2 separate regions of the Homo sapiens genome follow, and region 2 is linked to region 1. Evidence: fine-mapped expression QTL. A gene starts in region 1. The other region holds a variant in brackets. All regions are shown on one strand. Distances are between the middles of the regions. Region 1 holds the start of TAFA1 (TAFA chemokine like family member 1). Region 2 overlaps SUCLG2-DT (SUCLG2 divergent transcript).

Region 1 (5,391 bases):
GCAAAATCCAGAATGAAGAGCGAGGCCGTGGAAGGGTGAGAAATATACTTTGAACATTAAGAGGAAGAAAGCAAAATGCGTCCGGAACTAAAAATTCAATATAGGAAAAACAAAACAAAACAAAACAAAAATCAGGTGGGAGGGACTTCGTCCCTGAAACTGCCAAAAGAGAGGGAAAAATGCCACTGAGCATACCGGAAGAACAGAAAGTGAAGGAAGGGAGAAAGGAAAGAAGGCACATTAAACCAGGCAAGAAATAGTAAGTTACTTTTTAATTTCTTTTTCATTGACAACTTGCTTCCAAAGTTAGTTTGGGGACTATGCCCCCACAAAATTCTTAGCCACATACAGACCAAGATTATAGTAGGTAAAATCCTCAAGTATTGAAAGTTATTCCAACTTTTGCAGAATATTCTGCTATTGGCCAAAGCATCCAAAAACAGATGACTTCTACTTTTCAAGGTGTGTAGAAGCAGGTGGGGTGACACTTAGAAAAACACACCTTTTCTGAGAAATTAATAGAAATACCTCCAAGACATTTTGGCACACTCCCCTTCCCCCAAAGCATCCAGCCAACAATATGTCTTGGAATTCAAAGGCAAGCTGCCCACACTATAGCACTTTATGTCACTTGCATTCAACCATCTGTTAAGGAAATAGTGGTAAGACTGGAGGAGGCTGCAGTGGAGCCAGCTCCTGACTTACCTGGTCTGTGCAGGTGATGCTGCTGGAAAGTGTGCTGAAGGGATCCATGGCAGAGTAGCATTGCACAAGCACTTATCCACAAATACAGGACCCAGGACATCGCAGAGACCATTGCCATTCTCTAAAGAGAACATTCGACAGGAAAGGTTACCTCCGGCTTCAAGCCCCCAGCTCAGTCAGCCCCACTGATGAGGGAAGGGAGGTCTCAGACGTCATGTTCCTTTGCTACTTCTCTGGCTAGAACTAATGATCCAGCAGAGGTCATGCCATGAAGTGGGATTGAGAGAAAGCCCTTTTCAGATGATCATACATTCATTTTTTTCTTAATTCTGCAAAACAAAACTCCAAGGATTGGCAAAATGCAAAAATAAAGTTTTAGGCTATCAGTTAGTCGGTTTAAAACAATGCATGCTGACTAAAAATCCTATTTTACACAATGATCTTTAAACTATAGTTATCCCAGGCACTGAAAAGCTGCAGACTCCTCCTGTTCATTCTAACTTCATTGCAAGTCTGACATAAGCCTGGAAGGAAAGAGTGGGTTCTTTTTTTTTTTTTAATTCTACAGTCATGAATTTTTAATTGCAATGCTGTCTTCTAAACTAAGTAATCATTTCTCAGAGGCATGTTGTAATCTCCTGATAGAACTGATCCTTTTGACTGGACCTAAGAATCAGAAGGGATTGTGTTTAGCCAGAATGAGTTTCAGATGCAACACCTATGCTTCTATCCTAGAGCAAGCCATAATTTGCAATATTGCTTAGCCTCCTAAGATTCCATTGTAGCTTTTGTTGTATAGCATTGATGAATATGCATATACAGGTGGCATATGTATTTATGGATGAATATGTACCTTTTCTCGGGTGCTGAAACTTTGACAGTCTTATCTGCACCTATGAGGATCTTAGGAACTACAAAGGCTCAACTGCGCTATATATTGTCCAATTTCTCAAACAACACCTTATGCTGCATTTCATATTGCCAAATTAATCAAACTTGAAGCACCGTCCTTACTCAGCCAGTGATAGGGAAGCATTTTCTACACAAGAATCCAGTTAACTGTATGCTTTTCTGTTAGGCAGAGAGGGCTTTGGAAGATTTCTTTCTTTCTTTTCCTTTTCACTGTCAAATCATACCCTTCAAAAATCTCAACTATACGTTGAAAACGTGCTAGTAACCTCCCAGCCTGGCTTCTTTATTCATGAAAATTGGTTCTTTATTAAAAACTGATGTTCAGAAAACAAAAATATACATCATATGTATGCACATAATGCACGCTAATTTGTGGATTTTAGCAGAGAGATGCAGTCTTGGAAGGATTTTAGGACTATAATAGACAAATGGTGACAACTATAATTAAGTGCAAAGCAGGAAAACATTATTTTCAACAGCTTGGTGCTATTCATGCCTAAGTCTGTGATTCAGATGGAGCATTCACTTTCTAATTAGTTTCACTGCCCACTGTTTACTTTTGTATACAACATACTTTGCCTTATTGTTTTCAGAACTATTGGGATAACATACATGCATTCTCTTCAGTGGAAATAAACAGCAACACCCCTCCTGTGAAACCTAAAATGAATGTATTTGGGGACTTTTTCAGAATACCCTGCAAATTACAGAAAGACAAAACAGAGGTGACTGTGGATGTATTTACTGCTTGTGAATTGCAGTTAAAATGTACTGGAAATTCATCCAAACTTGAAAAAAAAATCCTGCCACAACCAAAACTTAATAGTTTTTCAATGACTGCTTTCTCTTGCTCATTTCTTCACCCATATAGATCCTACCACTCAAAAGGATTACTGTGATTTTATGCTTGCAATATATATTTTTTTAATTTAACTTTTTTAAATTCTCAGCATTACTTCCAAGCCTCCTGCATGTCACTCTCACTGCTTGCTCCTTTACCAAGGGGTTGTCTCAATGTTATTAAGCGTCTTCCCCAAATAAAGCATTCAGCCTTGCACAGTTCTCTAGATATGCCTGGATATGTTTCAGATCTGCTTTCTGAATCTTAAACCCTTAAAGATGCTTCTTACCTGAAAAATCCAGCCAAGAGCAGAGTACTCTATTAGTGTTCATTGGAAAGATCTAACACTTTTTAAAATCCATCTGTGCCACAATTTAAAATTTTTTTTCAAAGAGCTTCCCAACAATCTTCTTTATCAGGATTAAAAAAAAAAAAATGTTACTCTCTTCCGATCCTATTTCCACAGTAAAAAAAAAGACATCGGGTTCATTCAGACTGTATTGTCAGAAAAGGAGCCAAGGTTTGAGGGGTGGAAACCTTGTCATTTTCACCTTTAAATCATCTCCTGGCGTCACCTCTGCCTGACGAGACCTTTGAAGTGATGGGGAGATAATGTGCAGTTTCCTGATGAGAATCAGTTTATAGTTGCCGATGGACCATCCCCACTCCAGTGCATTCGGGGCAGAGTAAGGCAGCAAAATGTAGGAGCAGGGCTGCTATACGGTGCTGTAAGTAGCAGTAGTCTGTTTCAATACATCCCTCCGCTCTAAAGTATCACATGTCTTAAAGTGACATTACCCTCTATTACAGCTACAGTGAATTGTAATATCTGCCTACTAACTCTTCAACAACTCAAGCAGCGCTTTAACATTATATTGCCTGATTTATTACATTAGAAGTCCTACTGATACCACTGATTTAACAAAAGAGTAAAGAGGGAAGGAGAAACAAGAAAAAAGCATTCTGCAAAATACTGATAGTATTAGTGGGAGTTAGACTTCTAACAGTAAATGGGAAAGTGAAATATAAGCCATTTCTTACCTCTTAATGTTCTTTTTACCAGTAAATTAACCACAAATATTGTCAGGTTTATACTAATTTAAGTCTGCTGGTTGTTTCAGCAGTTAAATAGACTAGAATTTACCTGGAATAGGACATAGATGCGTATATGCATAAGTCCAATAAAAACCTTCTGAACTTTTTGAACATGTTTAATAAATAAAAATATGTTATTTTCAGCATCAAATGAAGAAATATGCTCACAGCTCTTTTTTAAAAAATTTTTCCTCTCCTTCAAATAACATGCTGGGGTGGGGAGGGAAAACACTCAGAAGTTCAACATCTTCTTCCTCTTACTACGGTTTGAACCCTTTCTTCTTCAGAAATATAGTATAATTTTGCCTAAATTTCAATGATGAATACAAGATGACCTAGTTTTCATTTATAGATTGTGCTGGTAATAATTCTCTGAAATACCCTCAGTTATTTCACAAATCACTTATAAAGCACCTACTATGTGTTAGGTGCCTGGGAACAAAGCAGAAAACGTGATTGATGAGATCCCCACTGTTATAGATGATACTGTCTAATCTTTTATGGTGTTTTCAAAATCAAGGTAGTTCTCATAATATTGCTTCCTTGGAAACATTTTGAAATTCCCCAGAATACTCTCTTGCCTTTCAGAGGCACAATAAAGAAGGTCCAATGCTGCTGCACATCTTTGCAAGTGATTCTGTTTTCTCATGTTACACACAGTGAGAGAGTTAGGGATCCTTCAGACTCGTCAGTCTTGCCAATTGGTCTTTCACATTGCACAAAACACACATAATAGCTCTTTGTAACATAACAACTGTTCTCTAAATCTTACCTCTAAACAGATTTCTAAGTAATAGTAAATATTAATCTCACAGTTAAAAATGTCAAAGTTCTAGTTGGTGTTGCATGTTTCACATCTGTGCCTCATTATTATTGTTCATGAGTGTGTACAGAAAGTTTACACTGACTGTACAGCATCAAGATAAAAAAATAATAACAGCAGTGGCAGCAGGTAATGTTTATCAAACCTTCACCAGATGCTAGCACATTCTATAGTATGTCTTGTAAAGTCTAATTTAATTCTTTTTACCAACCCCACAAGATAAGTATTATTATTATCTCTGTTTCACAGATGGGGAATGTGAGAGGAGACAGGAAGATTAAAGAACGTGCACAAGGTTGTGTGGTAGTAAAAGACAGAGCAGATTTCAAGCCCAAATGATTTGGCTCAAGAGTACATTCTTAAACACTGGGATAAAATATTTAATGGAAAAAAAATCCAAAAAAATAACTATTATATTTTCTTATTTCTTTAACATTAAGATAGTCTCAAAAAATGATTATTCATTCTTTCTAGAGGTACATATTACACCAGGCATTTGAAATATAGAAGTATACAAGATGGCTTTTGCCCCGTGATTGTTGTTGGTTGTGGTTTTGCTATGCTAATGAATTAAAATTAAAAGGAAGTTCACCTTTGCTAATAAAGGCTACTATTTTGAAAACCTGTAACCATTATGTTTTTCATTTCTAGAGATTAAAATAAGGGTCAAGATAGTTACTTCCATAATTCAATTTAATCGACCACCTAATGGATTACATTCAAGGCATTCAGATAGGCATTGCTGACAATTAAGAAAAAAATACTGGAATAAAGACTCGCCTTAACTATCATTCTAAATGCATGTAATGAAGCAAGAATATTAGCATAGTTCTATTTTTTTCTTCCAAATACCTTGCAGTCCATTGCATTGCAGCCAATGATCATTTGTCCTAATAATGTAAGAATCAACATATATTGATCTTTGAGGCCATTTAGTGTATTCTCCCAACTCAAAGCAAAACTACTCTCACATTTTTCAGAGAAGTTGAGCCTTTCCACCTTCTGACCATAGTAG
Region 2 (5,391 bases), 330 kb after region 1:
TTCTGCAAACACAGCTAGCAAAGCCAATGTTCATTCTAAATTGCTGGTCAAGGTTTCACAAGAGTCACAACAAATAAAGAAAAAATCCTTGCAATTTAACCAGCTTTTACTGGGAGCTGTAATGTACCCAGTCCTTTCCTGGGCACTATCATAAATATAAGAAAAAGATGTTGACATTTTCCAGTGCTAACAGGTGAGGTTGGGTTAATTCTGTACTCCACAATTCCAAGGGAGCTAGCCTGAGAGTTTTTATAGTGTGTAAAACATAGGGTTGAGGCTGGGCATGGTCGCTCACGCCTGTAATCCCAGCACTTTGGGAGGCCAAGGCGGACAGATCACCTGAGGTCAGGAGTTGGAGACCAGCCTGGCCAACATGGTGAAACCCTGTCTCTACTAAAAATACAAAAATTAGCTGGGTGTGGTGGTGGGTGCCGGTAATCCCAGCTACTTGGGAGGCTGAGGCATGAGAATCTCTTAAACCCAGGAGGCAGAGGTTGCAGTGAGCCAAGATCACACCACTGCACTCCAGCCTGGGTGATAGAGCAAGACTGTCTCAAAAAAACCAAAAAAACAAAAATACAAAACATAGGGTTGGGATTCACTCACTTGGGGGCGCAGGGCACCTGACTTTGCCACATAAAGTGTAAACATGGGTAAATTTCTTAACTTTTCAGACTTCATTTATTCATCAAATAAGAATAAAAATACCCACCTCTTATCTTCATTATGGGGATTGAATGGATTAATGTATATAAAATATTTAACCCAATACGCTATAGACGTGCCATGGTGGTTAACGTCTGTCTTTGGCTTTCCCCCATATTAGCCTCTGAGACAGGGATTTTGGTGCAAGAAGTTTATTTGAGAAGTGATCCCAAGACACAGAGGGAGAAAAACTGAGACATGAGACAGAGAAGGAAGATAATAAAGGGTGATTTATTGAGCAGCTGACTGCTGTGGGTAACAGAACCCAACTCACTGGGGGAACTCAAAACAAAGTAGAACAGCTTTAGAATTACCCCTTCCCAGAAGCAAAGGTGCTAAGGTACTTATCTACCAACTTTCTGTTATTGGTTTAGGATTGATTCCTGGAGCATTAACCTTTCTGCACTTCTAGCCTGCCCTGCATGCTGGCCAAGCTTGCTTCCAAAGACAGAGAAATGACCTTAGGTGGAGAGAATTAAAGGGTTTTCAGTAAGCTGACTACAGAGGCAAGCACTTAGGGGATACAGACAGAGCTTCAACAGGATCTTCATGACTAAGACTTTATTTAACTTCCCCATGACTCCTTAGCCTCTAGGCTCTCACTGCTTTATGAGGCTTCTATAATTCAGGTAAAATCTTTCTAATTGTATTCTTTCCATTTGAAAATGTTAGGCCAACAGGATTTGAATGTATACCATCTGGGTTGAGTGGAGTTAGAGCTTTGAACTCGGACATACAGATTTTATAGAGAGTTGGCTTGCTAGATGATCTCAAAGAGTTCACAACTGAATTGGGGAGACTGTACACACACAAGTGAAAACATGTAAGTCAAATGCAATTTAGAAGTTTAAGGCACTAAAGTCAGCGCAATGGCATTTTCTAAGAGGTAAGACAAAGTTTCATCACTGCAAAATCTGCTGAAATTCTTAACGTTTTTCATCTAGTATCATTTGCCATTTTACTTTGAAATTTCAAGGCATCTGAATAGAGCACACTTAGTGTTGATTTGTTAAAGTGTGAGCTGTTTGGCATGATAGTAAAATGGACTAATTGTTCAGTATAGTAGAGTAAAAACGACCAAATTTTGGATACTGAATTCTTCTGGTTTATTATTTTGAAGAGAAAACAGAGAAGAAAATAGGTTATTTCCCAACTGTGGTATAAATACAGCATCAAAGCTGAAAGTAAGCATATAAAATTGGAGAAGCTTTTCTGAATATGTAAGTTGTGCTAATTAGAGTAGATAAAAATCAACTAATGAGTATCTAACTTTGTGTGCAGATCTGTGCTTAGAAAGATGGTGAAGTAAGAAAAAAAACATAGGCTTTACTGAGTTAAAAAACAGAGATCTAAGCTCTGTTTCTTATTAGCTGAGCAATTAGGTAACTTAGTTTCTCTCTCTGAAGTCTAAATGCATCTTCCCTTAAATGGGCATAATAAGACTTACCTCACAGTAGTGTGAAAAGAATATGACAGATAAATGCAACATGACATGTAAAAGTGTTAGAGGCCATCAACAGGTGAACAGACAAACAAATTGTGGTATGTCTTTACAACAGAATGCTACTCAGCAATAAAAAGGAATGAACGACTGATGCAGAAACCAACATGAATTAATCTCAAAATAAATACAACAGACAAAGGAGAGTATATACTCTAGGATTCTATTTATATAACATTTTAGAAAATACATAATAATCTATAGTGATAGAAAGTATATGAGTGATTACCTGAGGATGGAGGAATACGGAGGAGTGACAGGGCACAGGAAACTTCTGGGGTAAGCGAGATGTTCATTATCTTGATTGTGGTGCCGGCTTCATGGATGTATACATATGTCAAAATTTATCACACTGTGCACATTAAATGTGTGCCATTATTGTATGCAAATTATACTACAATAAAGCTGTTGACAAAACAGTATTAGGTGCGCAGTAAATGCAACTGTCCTTTTCTAAGTGTGTGTTTATCGGACCTTAATGCAACTTGCTTGGGGTCAACTTTGGTAAGTCCAAATCAGCTGAAGCTATACAGATTTTGTCTGCCCATCACTTCTTTCTTCTTCAAAAGAGCAACAGGATAGTCCCTCTTTTGGTAAATCTCTCCTCCCTGGCTCAAAAGCATGGTGCTTATTGGGGTTGCCAATCATAGAGACCCAACATTTTGGACACTTAGGAATAGGTGTGTGCAGGGAACACCATGCAGCCCTTTCAGATCCCCTCTACCAAATGCTGTGTGCCCAGCCCCC[A/CA]ACTACTTCTTCCTTTTGCTGCAAAGTTTGTATCTGCAACCTTCTTCAGAGGATTACCTTGGAGCTAACAGGGCTGCCATGCATATAGAGAGCCAGGGTTTACATCCCACTGACCAAGGCAAGCTGTAACCAATGACTGGCACAATGTTGCTTTTGCCCAGCTCCCTTGCTGTGGAAGGGGACAAATTCTGACATGTAATTTATGCTCTAAGCTCTCTGTGGCCCAAGGCTGGCACTTCATCTGAAATTGCAGCTTTGACCAGGAATTTTCTCTTCTTTATCCTGCCTTCATATACCCTTACCATTTTCTACTAAGAAAATTTCCTTAATAAAACCTCTTGTACCTGAATCTGACTTGAAACGGCATGGCAGCCACCTCTTTGGCCACTGAGATTTCCAGGAATACACCTGGGACTCCGGCTGACCTCATGAGGGTCTTTTAGATATTTTGAGACTTGAGCTAGGGCTATCTTTCCTCTTTGGTCATAATGAAGTATGGATGTGACACTGGAGCTCCTAGGTTCCCCACCTTGAGAAAAAACCTACTTTGAAAGGAATGCTAAACAGAGAAACTCACCAGAGATGAAGTGAGAAACTCCTGGTGATGGTTGGGTCCATGATGCCAGATACCTTTAACAACAGCACTCTTTTTCCTTCTGGGGTTGTTCACGCTGACCAATAAATAAAGCATGTATTTTGAGTCATACTCAAATATTTAAAAAATATTTTTCACACTTTTCAATTGTTTTTAGTAGTTTGAATTGATTTTCTTTGGAATACCAAACTCTCCCCTTGCACAGACTGATGAGATGAAATCACAGTGGGGGAATTTGGAGCCTAATTTGGAGCCTAATGAAAGAATCTTAGGTTTCTTTCATTAAAAATTATACTTTTCCACAAGACACAGACAATAACATAAAAACTCATTGTATCAAGGAAAAGCTGATCTTAATGGCACAGGCTAATGCTGATAGTATAAAAATGACTTCCTGAGAAAGTTTAGCTCACAAATGCTCTGAACCCTTACTAAATCAGATGGATAGCAGGACCATTAATGGCTTGGAGAATTTTCAAATTGAAATTTGCTATTTTGTGCAGAATATTAGAATAGTGCTTCATTGGCTTGGCTAAAATCAAACTAATGACATGAGAATTACTATTTTAATTCATTTAATGATTGCTTCATGAGTTAAAACTTTTTGCCTCCCTCTTGTTATAATTTTAAAAAATTAATCCACTCTAAAAGATGAGATATATGAAAATAAAACATTTCATGCAATAATCTTTGTTGTTTTTAGTGGTTTTTTAGTGGAGGGAGGAGATATATCTAGGATTATTAAAGGTCAAAAAGGTGAGATTGGCAATATTAAGTGTTACGGTATTTCTGCTCTAAGAACAAATATTTATAATAGTGGTTCTCAACCAGGGGAGATTTTACTCTTCCTCCCCACCCCCATGTATTAGTCCCTTTTCATACTGCTATGAAGAAATACCCAAGACTGGGTAATTTATAAAGAAAAAGAGGTTGAATGGTCTCACAGTTCCACATGGCTGGGGAGGCCTCACAATCATGGCAGAAGGCAAAAGGCACATCTTACATGGCAGCAGGCAAGAGAGTATGTGCAGGGGAACTGCTCTTTATAAAGCCATCAGATCTTGTGAGACTTACTCACTATCATGAGAATGGCATGGGAAAAACCCACCCCTATAATTCAGTAACTACCCACAACAAGTGGGGATATGGGAGCTACAATTCAAGGTGAGATTTGGGTGGGGACACACCAAAACCATATCATGCTTCTAGGGGATATTTGGCATTACAACATTTAGAAAGATACAGTATCTAGAAAGATTTTTGATTGTCACAAGTGTAAAGGAGGGGGCATTTGCTACTGCATATAATAGTAGAGGCCAGGGATGCTGCTAAATATCCCATTATGCATACGACAGCCCCCCACAACAAAGAATGGTCCAGCCCAAAAGGACAATAGTGCAGAGGGAATGAAATCCTCATTTACACCCTTGCTACCAAATCTTCCCTTTCTTTTACCTCAGAGCTGCACCTCAGAGAAACAAAAGGAACTACTCTAGACTGGAGTCTAAGGTAAAATGTCAATCCTGAAACCTCCTAGCCATGCCATCTAAGGTAAACTACTTTGCTTCTCTGTACGTTTTCCTTCTAATTTTGTAACAGTGCAATAGCACTTACCTCTTAGAGCTATTCAGAGAACGAAATGAGGTAGACACTTCCAGGAAAACTGCTTAGCACAGTGCCTGCACATAACACAGATCCAACACAGCTTAGCCATTTGTTGTTTTTGTTACAACAAGTAGAAGTTTGGGGCAGGTATAGAAGATAAAGCAAGAGGCTGGGCTTGGTGGCTCACACCTGTAATCCTAGCACTTTGGGAGGCCAAGGTGGGTGGATCACTTGTGGT

What was found. PIP is the estimated chance that this variant, and not a neighbour inherited with it, causes the effect.
Region 2: its variant is fine-mapped to the expression of TAFA1 in CD8 T cells (CEDAR, PIP 0.92).

The regions. Positions count from the first base shown.
Region 1 is chr3:68,002,059-68,007,449 of GRCh38, reverse strand. It overlaps TAFA1 (TAFA chemokine like family member 1), which reads right to left and starts at 3,203. Exons shown (of 5, transcript NM_213609.4): 1 at 2,748-3,203; 2 at 706-826. The coding sequence starts at 823.
Region 2 is chr3:67,668,049-67,673,439 of GRCh38, reverse strand. SUCLG2-DT (SUCLG2 divergent transcript) reads right to left here. Exons shown (of 7, transcript NR_109992.1): 2 at 3,531-3,624; 3 at 2,436-2,611. Among named protein-coding and RNA genes, the nearest start is that of SUCLG2-DT, 16 kb to the right of the region's middle. The variant A/CA (reference allele first, on the strand shown) is at 2,954.